2 separate regions of the Homo sapiens genome follow, and region 2 is linked to region 1. The links come from fine-mapping of genetic effects on plasma protein levels. Region 1 holds a variant in brackets. A gene starts in the other region. All regions are shown on their reverse strands.

Region 1 (5,379 bases):
TACATAAGATTTAAAACCTTGGCCAGGCATGGTGGCTCACGCCTGTAATCCTAGCACTTTGAGAGGTCGAGGTAGGTGGATCATCTGAGGTCAGGAGTTCGAGACCAGCCTGGCCAACATGGTGAAACCCGTTTCTACTAAAAATACAAAAATAACTGGGTGTAGTGGTGCATGCCTGTAATCCCAGCTACCTGGGAGGCTGGGGCAGGAGAATTGCTGGAACCCGGGAGGCAGAGGCTGCAGTGAGCCAAGATCACGCCACTACACTCTAGCCTGGGTGACAGAGCAAGACTCAGTCTCAAAAAAAAAAGAAAAAAAAAAAACTTTCCTAATGTTTGTATATTCTCACGTTAAGTCCTTCTTGGAATAAAGTTGGTGTAGAGTGGGGATGGGAGAAAAATTAATCTCCGTAAGTTGCTGGGGTAGAGGTAACAGTGTTTTATGTGTAGAGGAAATAATGTCTACTGTTAAGTCTTTCGATCAGCCAAAAGTGGAGTGGATAGTGCTTAAAATGTTTTGATGTCGTTGTGAGGATTAAAGTTATTTAAAAAGAATGGATGTGGAGTTGATTTTAACATTTTGGGATTAAGAAGGGTGGAGAGTTCTCACTGGAGGTTGTTTGATGTGCCCTAAGGCTGGTTGAGCACCTCTGGCTGCCTCTGAGCATGTTGCAGTCCCCTGTCAAGATTCCCTGGGTAACCTTTCTAAAATTTTGCTCCAGCGCCCAGTGGAGGAGGCTGGATTCTGCCTCTGCTGTCTTAGAACTTCAGTCTTTCCTTACAGGTATAGCTCTCTTCATACACACTGCTTGACTGCAATGTGTTCAGGTTACATGCTGTCCTTAAATCAGGCCTCCATAATTTCTTGGCAGCTTTCCTTTTGCAATCAAATTAGCACTTGGGTCTAGAAGCCAGTTAGGATGATTGGAAGAAAAAAATTACAGATGGTTAAAATTGGGTCAAAGTGCACTTCCTTACTCTGTTCTCTTTACAAGTTAAAAATATCTAAAAAATCATTGCAGCTGTGTCAGCATTTCTCAGTAGGTGCCAGATTTAGGTACTACCTTTCAGAATGTTTATGTACTGTGAAGGGGAAAATCCATTAATTATACAGTTCTGTTTGTCTAAAACGTTCAAGAACATTTCCACTGCCCTCTGCATGTTTGTGATTTTTGGGCCATTCAGTTCAGTCTGGATTATCCGATAGAGCACAGTGTTCTGTCATTGGTTCAGGCATTTGGCTGTCTTACCCCACAGAACTGTGTGTTCTAGGTCGGGGGCAATATTTTATATCTTTTACACTCTGTGTATAGTGCTGAGCATGTTACAGTTGGAAACTGTTAATTAATTTTTGTTCTATTTTCCTGCACTCAACTTTTCCTCCCAGAGGCCCCACCTGAATTTAAGAACAAATAAGTTATTATAAAGTCTTGTAGGAAAAGGCCTGGTATATTTAGAGAATCAGATCCAGCTGTCACCTACCATTCATACAGAACCATACTAACCTTTTCCTAAAAGTACCATCAGGCTGTTGGTTTTGTAAGTTTTCTTTCGTTCATTTTCCTTTTAAACCAAGCCTCATCTGTGAAAGGAGGCTGAAATCTGGCAGACCTCTTTATTATGCTCTATTTGTCCACATGTGGAAACCACCAGAAACCAGTAAAAAAGAATGGGAAGTGACCAAAGAGCAGACAGAAAATACCAGTTGCCCTAGGGAGCACCCAGCTCTTCCAAGGACTGCATGGGTCCTGGTCAGAGGGGCAAGTGAAATACCGCAGCTGCCTCCTGCAGAGGGGTATCTCTTTTACTTGTGAGCAGCGTCTGCAGCTGTGCAGGCTCTCAGCAGTGCTTAGTGTCAGCCATGTCCCTTGATTTATGCTCGTGTGAGCCTCTGCACATGTGGGTGCTCCAGCAGGCTAGAGGGGGGAGGGGTGCCCCAGGTCCCCAGAGGCACAGAGCTTTTTTTGGATACCGAGCCTGAGCTGAGAAGCGTGGGATGCAAGAGTGATGTCCTGCTCCAAGTTCAAGGAAAGTACAAAGTAAGCGGAAATGCATCCCTTCAAATAGAGGAAATCCCAAGTTGCTTTTATGTTTCCCGTTATAGCTGTGTGAAGTCATATCTTGAGGTTTAGCTTTCACGTTGAGTTTCAGCTGCTTTTTATGTGTGGCGTGGTGAATGTTAGTTTTCAGCATTTCCTTATTTCAGCGTATGTTGCCTCCGCACTGATTATTGTCCTTTGTTAGTTTAGAAGTCTTGTTTTATCCAGAGAAACAGAATAGGAAAATAACAGCAATTTTGAATGGCAGCTTCCCCTCCTTTTATGATAAAAAATACAGCTTCTGTAAAAAACTGCGGCAAGAGAAAAGAAAGGGCGTACTGTTGTCCCTGGGGATAAAATAGACAGGAGACCAAAGACTACATTTCTACTGAGCAGTGCTTTTATTAATGAATTCTGGTAGAGTTTTAACAGCAGGGCACGATTTCCTCCTATTGTGACTCCTGATGACCTCCAAGAAATAATTCCTGAATGTCACGCTCATAAGACATTTTTCTGATTATGGGCTTGTAATAATTAGATGTTTATCCCTAGAAAATATTGCCAACAAAAATTTATTAATAGTGCAAAGGAGGTGCTTATGCACCTTATTATGTAAATTGTTATTTTATATTCAACATCATTACAAACGTGTTTTGAGAGGGCTATTGAGATAGATCTCCAAGACATCTGCCGTAAACCAGTACTTGGACTTACAGCCAGTGCTCTCCACATCTCTATGGTAAGGAGCATTCAGGTCAGGAGGTAGAAATGGAAAACCAGGAAGGTATTTGGTGATTAGTTTGTGAAGTTAGTTGTGTCAAGAGCAAATTAATTTTTTTAATAAAATAAGTCTCAGCAATTTTAAAACCATTCATACAAAAGAAGCAGAGTTAAAATGGACTTCACAGTAGTTTCCATGGGGATTACCAGAAGGTGTAATGCATCTTCCGGGGAAAGAAGAAGATGGAGGGAAGTAGAATAGGATGGGGAATCGTAGAGAGTCACAGTTGATTTCAGGTGCCACTCGGTGGCATTACTGTCATTGTTTACTTCCGAGCATTTAGATCTACAGCTAGAAGGGACTCAGAGAAGACAGACCCAAGAAAATCACCAAGGAATT[T/C]GCCTGTGTATAGGACTTTGAAATGGACACGTCTCCTTGAAAGTGCCACGTTGGATGTCTCCAGGCATGGATCTTGTCTAGATGGCATTTGCAGTTTTGCATGCTTTGCTATTGAAATGTTCTAGCTAATGAATGTCTTCCACTGCCTGCCTGTGTGTGTCAGGTAATGCATCTTTCTTCACAGAAGGACTGAATTCAGAGGGTTTCTTGAAGAAAATTTAAAAGCTGGTGATATCTGCATAGTTGCTTTATTTTATTTTATTTTTGAGATGGAGTCACGCTGTGTCGCCCAGGCTGGAGTGCAGTGGCGTGATCTCGGCCCACTGCAAGCTCTGCCTCCCGGGTTCATGCCATTCTTCTGCCTCAGCCTCCCGAGTAGTTAGGACTACAGGAGCCCGCCACCATGCCTGGCTAATTTTTTTAATTTTTTTTTTATTTTTAGTGGAGACGGGGTTTCACCGTGTTAGCCAGGATGGTCTCGATCGCCTGATGTCGTGATCTGCTGGGCCTCGGCCTCCCAAAGTGCTGGGATTACAGGCGTGAGCCACCGCGCCCGGCTGCTTTATTTTATTTTATTTTTTGAGATGGAGTCTAGCTCTTTCACCCAGGCTGGAGTGCAGTGGCATGATCTTGGCTCACTGCAGCCTTCACCTCCCAGGTTCAAGCGATTCTCCTGCCTCAGCCTCCCGAGTACCTGGGATTACAGGTGTGCACCACCTGGCTAATTTTTGTATTTTTAGTAGAGACAGGGTTTCGCCATGTTGGCCAGGCTGGTCTTGAGCTCCTGACCCCAAGTGATCCGCCCACCTCGGCCTCCCAAAGTGCTGGGATTACAGGTATGAGTCACTGTGCCCAGCCTGCTTTAGTTTATTTGGATGGTGACTGTAACTTTAAACATATTAATACTGAACAACTAAATATACTATGTATGCTGAAGGATGCTAGATTTTTCTAAGTCAGAATCTGACAGCTTTCTCAGTTAGCTGCTGTTTGTCAGTCCTTTGTGAACAAAAATACTGGTCTACCTCATGTTAAGGAAACGATAGGTGAAATGAGATTTATTTAATCATACCAGGTATTTTAAACAGCCAGCTCTTTTTTTTGGCAAGCTCTTAATGTTATTAAAAACATAATTTGTCACTTAAGTCTTTTCAGCATACATATAGTTTCTTAGTCATGTAATTCATAAAATAGAATTTAGAGTTGAAAGGAACCTAAGAGGTCCCTTCTAAATGTGTAGATCTTCTGAACAGTGTAGAAATTTTCCTCCACCATGTCTCTGCTGGAGGATATTGTCTGTGGCCATGCACTTGGCACCTTTCAAGGCAGCCAATTCTAGGGAATAACATTTCTTATTGGAAAATGCTCTGTTGGCCTGATTGTTGCTGCATTTTCCCCCTTGTTAATTCATGTTTGCCATTTAGCAACACAAACGAAGTCTGTTCCCCTTCATTCATGATGCTCAGTTCTTAAAGCTGAGAACATGATGGTTAAGGCAGCACAGTGAAATTGCCAACTACTTGCCAAACAAGTGGATTTGAACCAGCCTTTGCCTCATTTCTGTCCTTGGCCCGAGGGATTTAGAATCCAGCAGACCGCAACCTTCCTCCCTATTTCCCCTGTCCATTTACAGATGAATACCTGGAGATACCACAAGCTTAAATGTCTTGCCTAAAGCCACACACATTGGCTTGGAGCTTAGTGAGTTTGTATTAGGTACTATAAGTGATTTAGAGCTGATTTAGAGTATACAAGAGGTTATATGCAAATGCTGCGCCATTTCATGTCAGGGAGTTAAGCATCCTTGGATTTTGGTATCCACAGGGATCCTGTAACTAATCCATTACGGATATGGAGGGACAGTGGTACCTCTGAAGGCTGCTGGAGGATAAAGCTCTAACTCAAGAGCCGTGGATGTGGTGGTAACTTGGCAGCAGTCTCTTTCCCAAAGGCCTCCTTGCGGGAGGGAGGGCAGTGCTCATCTTAATTTTCTGGTCTCTTTCCTAGACTCACCATCATTCCTCAGGGAATCAGTTGATTAATTAACAAATGCTTGGCTGGGTGAGGTGGCTCACACCTGTAATCCCAACACTTTGAGAGGCTGAGACAGGAGGATCATTTGAGCCCAGGAGTTCAAGACCAGCCTGGGAAACAAAGCAAAACCCCCATCTCTTAAAAAAAAAAAAAAATTAGCTGACTGTTGTAGTGCATGCCTGTAGTT
Region 2 (5,379 bases), not on the chromosome of region 1:
TGCGCGTATGACAGGTCAACGTATTAGGAAGGAGCCAGAAAGTATTCATACTGCTACTCCTTATGAGATAGCCAAGAAGCATCATGTCAGTAACTGGGAGTGGAGAGGGAGTTTTGTTTTGAAACTATGCAGGTATTTTTCAGCATCCATTTGTACATTAGTATGGTTCTACAGGACCCCAGCTGTGGAAGTAACAAATTTCTTCTCCCTCCAGACTCTTGGATGACTACCTAGATCCCCAGCTTACCGGTTAGTTTCCTCCACAGGCTTCCATGAGCTCAGTGTCCCAAGACAGCAAAAATCTGGTATACCCTGTAGAAGCAGGGGGGTAGCAAATTTAGGCTCTCTTCGAAATTACTTGTACAATACGAGTGCCTTCGCAGCTTAGCCCCAAAGTGCTACTTATGTTTCCCAAGGTCTTTTCTATTCAAATCATATTTGGTTTCAGGCCCCTTTATGGGCATACGGTAACAGAAACCTCCATCATTCATATGAGACCCTTTTGTCAGTGGTAACATCTTGTACTTGGAAAAAAAATTTTTTTTTTTTTTTTTTTTTTTTTTTGAGACAGAGTCTCATTCTGTCGCCCAGGCTGGAGTGCAGTGGTGTGATCTTGGCTCACTGCAACCTCCGCCTCTTGGGTTAAAAGAATTCTCCTGCCTCAGCCTCCTGAGTAGCTGGGATTATAGGCACACACCACCACACCCAGCTAATCTTTTTGTATTTTTTTTTTTAGTAGAGACAGGGTTTCGCCATGTCGGCCAGGCTGGTCTTGAACTCCTGACCTCAGGTGGTCCACCCGCCTCGGCCTCCCAAAGTGCTGGCATTACAGGCGTGAACCACCGTGCCTGGCCGGAAGTCTTTAAAAAATAAAGTGATTCTACTCTTCTAAGCTTACAGAGACCAGACCAGGTGAATGTAACTGGGGAAAATCAAGATGGTACCTCTCTGCATTATCCCGCCAGACACTGTATTTTATGCATTCATGTCTAGGATACAGTGTGAAAATTAAAAAGTTTAGAGGGCAGATGCAATTGTGGCAAGTGACCTGCCAATAAAGCAGGTGCAGCTATAGAAGCTGGCATAGGTATATCCTTAATGGTGCTTTCTCCCTGGGCTTGTCTTTTTGTTGTTTTTTTCCCCCTATATTCAGAGCTCCTTGAGAAGTGATAAACACCTCCAGCTTTCTAACATCCTCCCCACACCATCTCACCATATCCATCTCCCAGCATCCATCTGCATTCAGCTAAGGGCGGGAAACTGACCTAGTGCCTGTGTTGCAGACCATTTCTGAGGTCTCCACCATCCAAGGAGGCACAGCCGTCATTACTGTCCTCCATGCCTTCAGCAGCCCCCCTCACAGCTAAGGTACATACCACCCCTTCTGCCGCGCCTCCACCCCTGGCACCAAGGTCTTCTGCTGCTTATGTCTAAAGGGATCACCTATATTTAACTGCCTCAGTGACCTAACCTCTTTCTTCTCATGTGCCAGATGTTAAGATGAAGGAGGAATACAACACATACTCAAGCCTCAGCCTGTTTAGTTGTTTTCACTGGGGCTCGCTTTTCTGGGACGGTATTTATTATCAGACTGGCAAGCCTAACTCCATAGGTTTACAGGAAGTAGGGATATTTTTATAAAACAATTGTGTCCTCCCCACATTTTGCTATGTTAATATTTGCTTCTAACAATTTGCAGCTGTTTCACTTTTTCCTCATTTGTCTCTAAGTTGAAGGCTTTGTTGGAGGGGACAGAGCACAGGAACAGCCTTGACAGTCTGTAATTATTGTACAGATATTTTAATAGCATATAAATAAGTATATTCCTTTTATTTTGAAACAAAAATGATCAGACACTGCCTTTTGTGTGTTTGCTGCCTGTGGCATCCTTTTTTAAAAAGACTGTTACATATTAAAATAGTGTACATATATAAATATTACCTCTTTTGCTGTACAGTTGTGATAGAGACTGAAGATTTTATTTTTTGTGTGCTTTTTATAAGAAAAAAATTAATACACTAAAGAATCTTGCTGATGTGATTGTAATGTACCTATGTAACTTATTTACTTTTGAATGTTCTTCTGTATCTTTAAACCTTTTATTAAATAAGGTTTTAAAAATTCAGAGTTGAATGCTTTGTTCTCTTGGGATTTTCACCATCTGGGGTTGATGTAAGTGCGCCTTGTCTTGCTTGCAGGGAGATTACTCGACATTTTTGAACCATAAGGATTCTCTTTTAGCAGCCTATTGTCAATGATGCCAGCCAGGAAAAGGAAAATAATACACTAATGTTTGCCTGGCTAAAAGATGACTCAGTAGACACAGACAGATTTTTACAAAATTTTAGACAAGAAAAAGTCTAAACTCAGTGTCTCACACAAATACACAGAAATGGCGCACTCCGACATTTTGGCTTCATTGGGATGAAATATGCAGGGTGCACAGTGTGGTCAGGGGCAACGGGAAGCCAGGGTTCTGAGGAGAGTATTTTCACGTGCAGGGTGGACTGGCTGAGCAACCCGAGTAGACAAGTCCACCATGAGGGATGCATTTCCAACAATATCATCTTAAATCCACTCCAGGATTGGGTTATTATTTTTAAAACACGGTGCTTAGTAGTAGTTGTTTACTGTTAAAATGCTAAATTATGAAAAAGGAAATGCGCCATCAGAGAAACAAATGCCCGAGCCCCTCGCTGGCTCCACGGCAACCGCTCGACCCCCGCGAGCCGCCGGAGCAGGCGTGCCTCGCGCCGGCTGGGACACCGTTGCCATGGAGACGCCCGAGCAGCTCCGCCGCGGGGGCGGGACGGGGCGGGGCGGGGCGGACGCCGCTCGCCGGCTGGCCCCATCCTCCACTGCAGCAGTAACGTCGCGGCGGGTTGCGGGTAGGACTGGACGCCAGAGCAGCCGCGCAGCGCCTGAACCGCTGCGGGCCGCCGCGGCCGCCCCTTCCCACCCTCGCCTCTGCTGTCTCCAGCCTCGCTTCTCCGACTTTCCTGCTCCTCTGCTGCCTTCGTTTCTGGTCCTCGGCCGTCCTCGCCGCCCGCCCAGAGGAGTCCCCGCGCCCGCCAAGAAGCCGCTTTCCGCTGGCCCGCAGCCGCCGCGACTTCGGCACAGTTTCTCCCTCTGGCTAGTCTCCCAAACGGCCGCTCCTCGCCCGCGGGAAGACCAGGCTGCGACCGCGAACGCCCGATCCTCTCCAGGAGCCGCAGCGAGCGCCCGGCGGCCACGCCCCGCGACCACACCCCGGCGGCTCTCGGCCCAGCGCGCCTGCCTTCGCCGCCCGCCGTCGCTCCTCGCCCGCTGCACGACGACGCGACGCCCCTGCTGCAGGCGGCGGACCCGACCGGACCCAGACCCAGACGCAAGATGGCGACGGCCGCGTGACTGCCTCAGCGTCCCCGAGCTCGGCTCCGAGTGCACCTACGGACTGACTGTGGGGGCAGAGAAGGGCGAGATCAGGACTCTGTCTTTGTTAATCGTGACTGCATGAAGGTCGCCTCCCTCGGGCCTACTTGGTGGGAGTGTCTGGTATTGTTCTAAGGCCAGGAGCACGGTGAGCCACAGTCTGTTGGTAGAATTTGGCGTCTTGATAGTTGAGAAAATGGCGATGACACTGTTGGAAGACTGGTGCCGGGGGATGGATGTGAACTCCCAGAGAGCTCTGTTAGTCTGGGGCATCCCAGTGAACTGTGATGAGGCTGAAATCGAAGAGACCCTCCAGGCTGCGATGCCCCAGGTCTCCTACCGAATGCTTGGGAGAATGTTCTGGAGGGAAGAAAATGCGAAAGCAGCCTTATTAGAGCTCACTGGCGCTGTAGATTACGCCGCGATCCCCAGGGAGATGCCGGGCAAAGGAGGGGTCTGGAAAGTGTTATTTAAGCCCCCAACTTCTGATGCTGAATTTTTAGAAAGATTGCACCTCTTCCTAGCTAGAGAGGGGTGGACCGTGCAAGATGTTGCCCGTGTCCTTGGGTTTCAGAACCCTACTCCGACCCCGGGCCCAGAGATGCCAGCAGAGATGCTAAACTATATTTTGGATAATGTTATTCAGCCTCTTGTTGAGTCCATATGGTACAAGAGGCTGACACTTTTCTCGGGGAGGGACATCCCAGGGCCTGGAGAGGAAACCTTTGATCCCTGGCTGGAGCACACTAATGAGGTCCTAGAGGAGTGGCAGGTGTCCGATGTAGAAAAGAGGCGGCGGTTGATGGAGAGTCTTAGAGGCCCCGCCGCTGATGTTATTCGCATCCTTAAGTCCAACAACCCCGCGATAACCACTGCCGAATGCCTGAAGGCGCTTGAGCAGGTGTTTGGGAGCGTTGAGAGCTCTAGGGATGCCCAGATCAAATTTCTGAACACTTATCAGAACCCGGGAGAAAAATTGTCTGCTTATGTCATTCGTCTGGAGCCTCTGCTACAGAAGGTGGTAGAGAAGGGGGCCATTGATAAAGATAATGTGAACCAGGCCCGCCTAGAGCAGGTCATTGCCGGGGCCAACCACAGCGGGGCCATCCGAAGGCAGCTGTGGCTTACCGGGGCTGGGGAAGGGCCAGCCCCAAACCTCTTTCAGTTGCTGGTGCAGATCCGTGAGGAGGAAGCCAAGGAGGAGGAGGAGGAGGCTGAGGCCACCCTTCTGCAGTTAGGCCTGGAAGGGCACTTCTGAGTGCCAGGAAAGGCAGCTTTAGTGCAGACCTAGATCACAGCTACTTTTCTTGTCCCTGTGGGGTCTTACAGATGTGTCTCTGAGTAGTAAAGGCTTAGCCTTGTTCTGTTTTGTTGTTTTTTGGAGGGGAAGGTTAGTCAGGCCTGAGTATTCATGTAACATTCTAAAATTGTGCCAGCGAGCACCGTGAACGACTGCAATGCAAGCGGGTCTTGCTGGCTAAAATGCCAGGTAAAGGGTTGGTTGGACACAGCGCTTAGTGCACGCTGTCATCATGGACATCATAATCAGTTGTGAAAAACACGCGAACCTATGACACTTCTTATTCCACACTGAATGTGAAATTGCATGTTCAGATGTTTACTACGAGGCCTGGCTCACAGGAAGTGTTCAGTAAAAGTATGCACTGTTAGATTACTGATAACGCGGATAGATTTTTGTTTACCATAAATTGTTCCAGATTTATATTAATGGAAGGAAGTGTGCATTTATTAGCTATTACTCAACTTTACAATGCAAACATCTTATTTCTCATCTTTAAACATGTCGACCAGTTTAATTGAAAAGTATTCTGAGACTGCAAAATGGGGTGTTAAAAAATACTGCAGTTACGGAGCTGTGTAAACCAGTTTCTCATTGCATAAGATACAGATGTAAATTGCATGGAGAGGTTGATATGCACCTGTACAGTAATTCACTCCCCCATTTCA

Alleles and levels. Positions count from the first base shown, and alleles are read on the strand shown. Strength reflects both the effect of a copy and how common the allele is.
With allele T in place of C in region 1, the plasma level of the protein whose gene starts at base 2,863 in region 2 is higher (weak association).

The links. PIP is the chance, under the fine-mapping model, that this variant and not a neighbour inherited with it causes the effect. Protein levels are from antibody-based Olink assays in UK Biobank. Linkage for the fine-mapping came from a reference panel and not from the study's own genotypes, which makes the PIPs less certain.
Region 2: PNMA1 starts here. The variant in region 1 is fine-mapped to the plasma level of the PNMA1 protein (UK Biobank, PIP 0.96).

The regions. Positions count from the first base shown.
Region 1 is chr10:34,777,666-34,783,044 of GRCh38, reverse strand. All of the region lies in intron 1 of PARD3 (par-3 family cell polarity regulator), which reads left to right. Among named protein-coding and RNA genes, the nearest start is that of PARD3, 35 kb to the left of the region's middle. RefSeq lists enhancers at 1,664-1,723, 1,934-2,063, 3,198-3,698, 3,699-4,199. The variant T/C (reference allele first, on the strand shown) is at 3,159.
Region 2 is chr14:73,711,868-73,717,246 of GRCh38, reverse strand. PNMA1 (PNMA family member 1) reads left to right here and starts at 2,863. Exons shown (of 1, transcript NM_006029.5): 1 at 2,863-5,379. The coding sequence starts at 3,608. The coding sequence ends at 4,669. MIDEAS (mitotic deacetylase associated SANT domain protein) reads left to right here. Exons shown (of 13, transcript NM_001367710.1): 13 at 1-2,125. RefSeq lists enhancers at 2,398-2,467, 3,408-3,467 and silencers at 2,688-2,967, 3,148-3,317.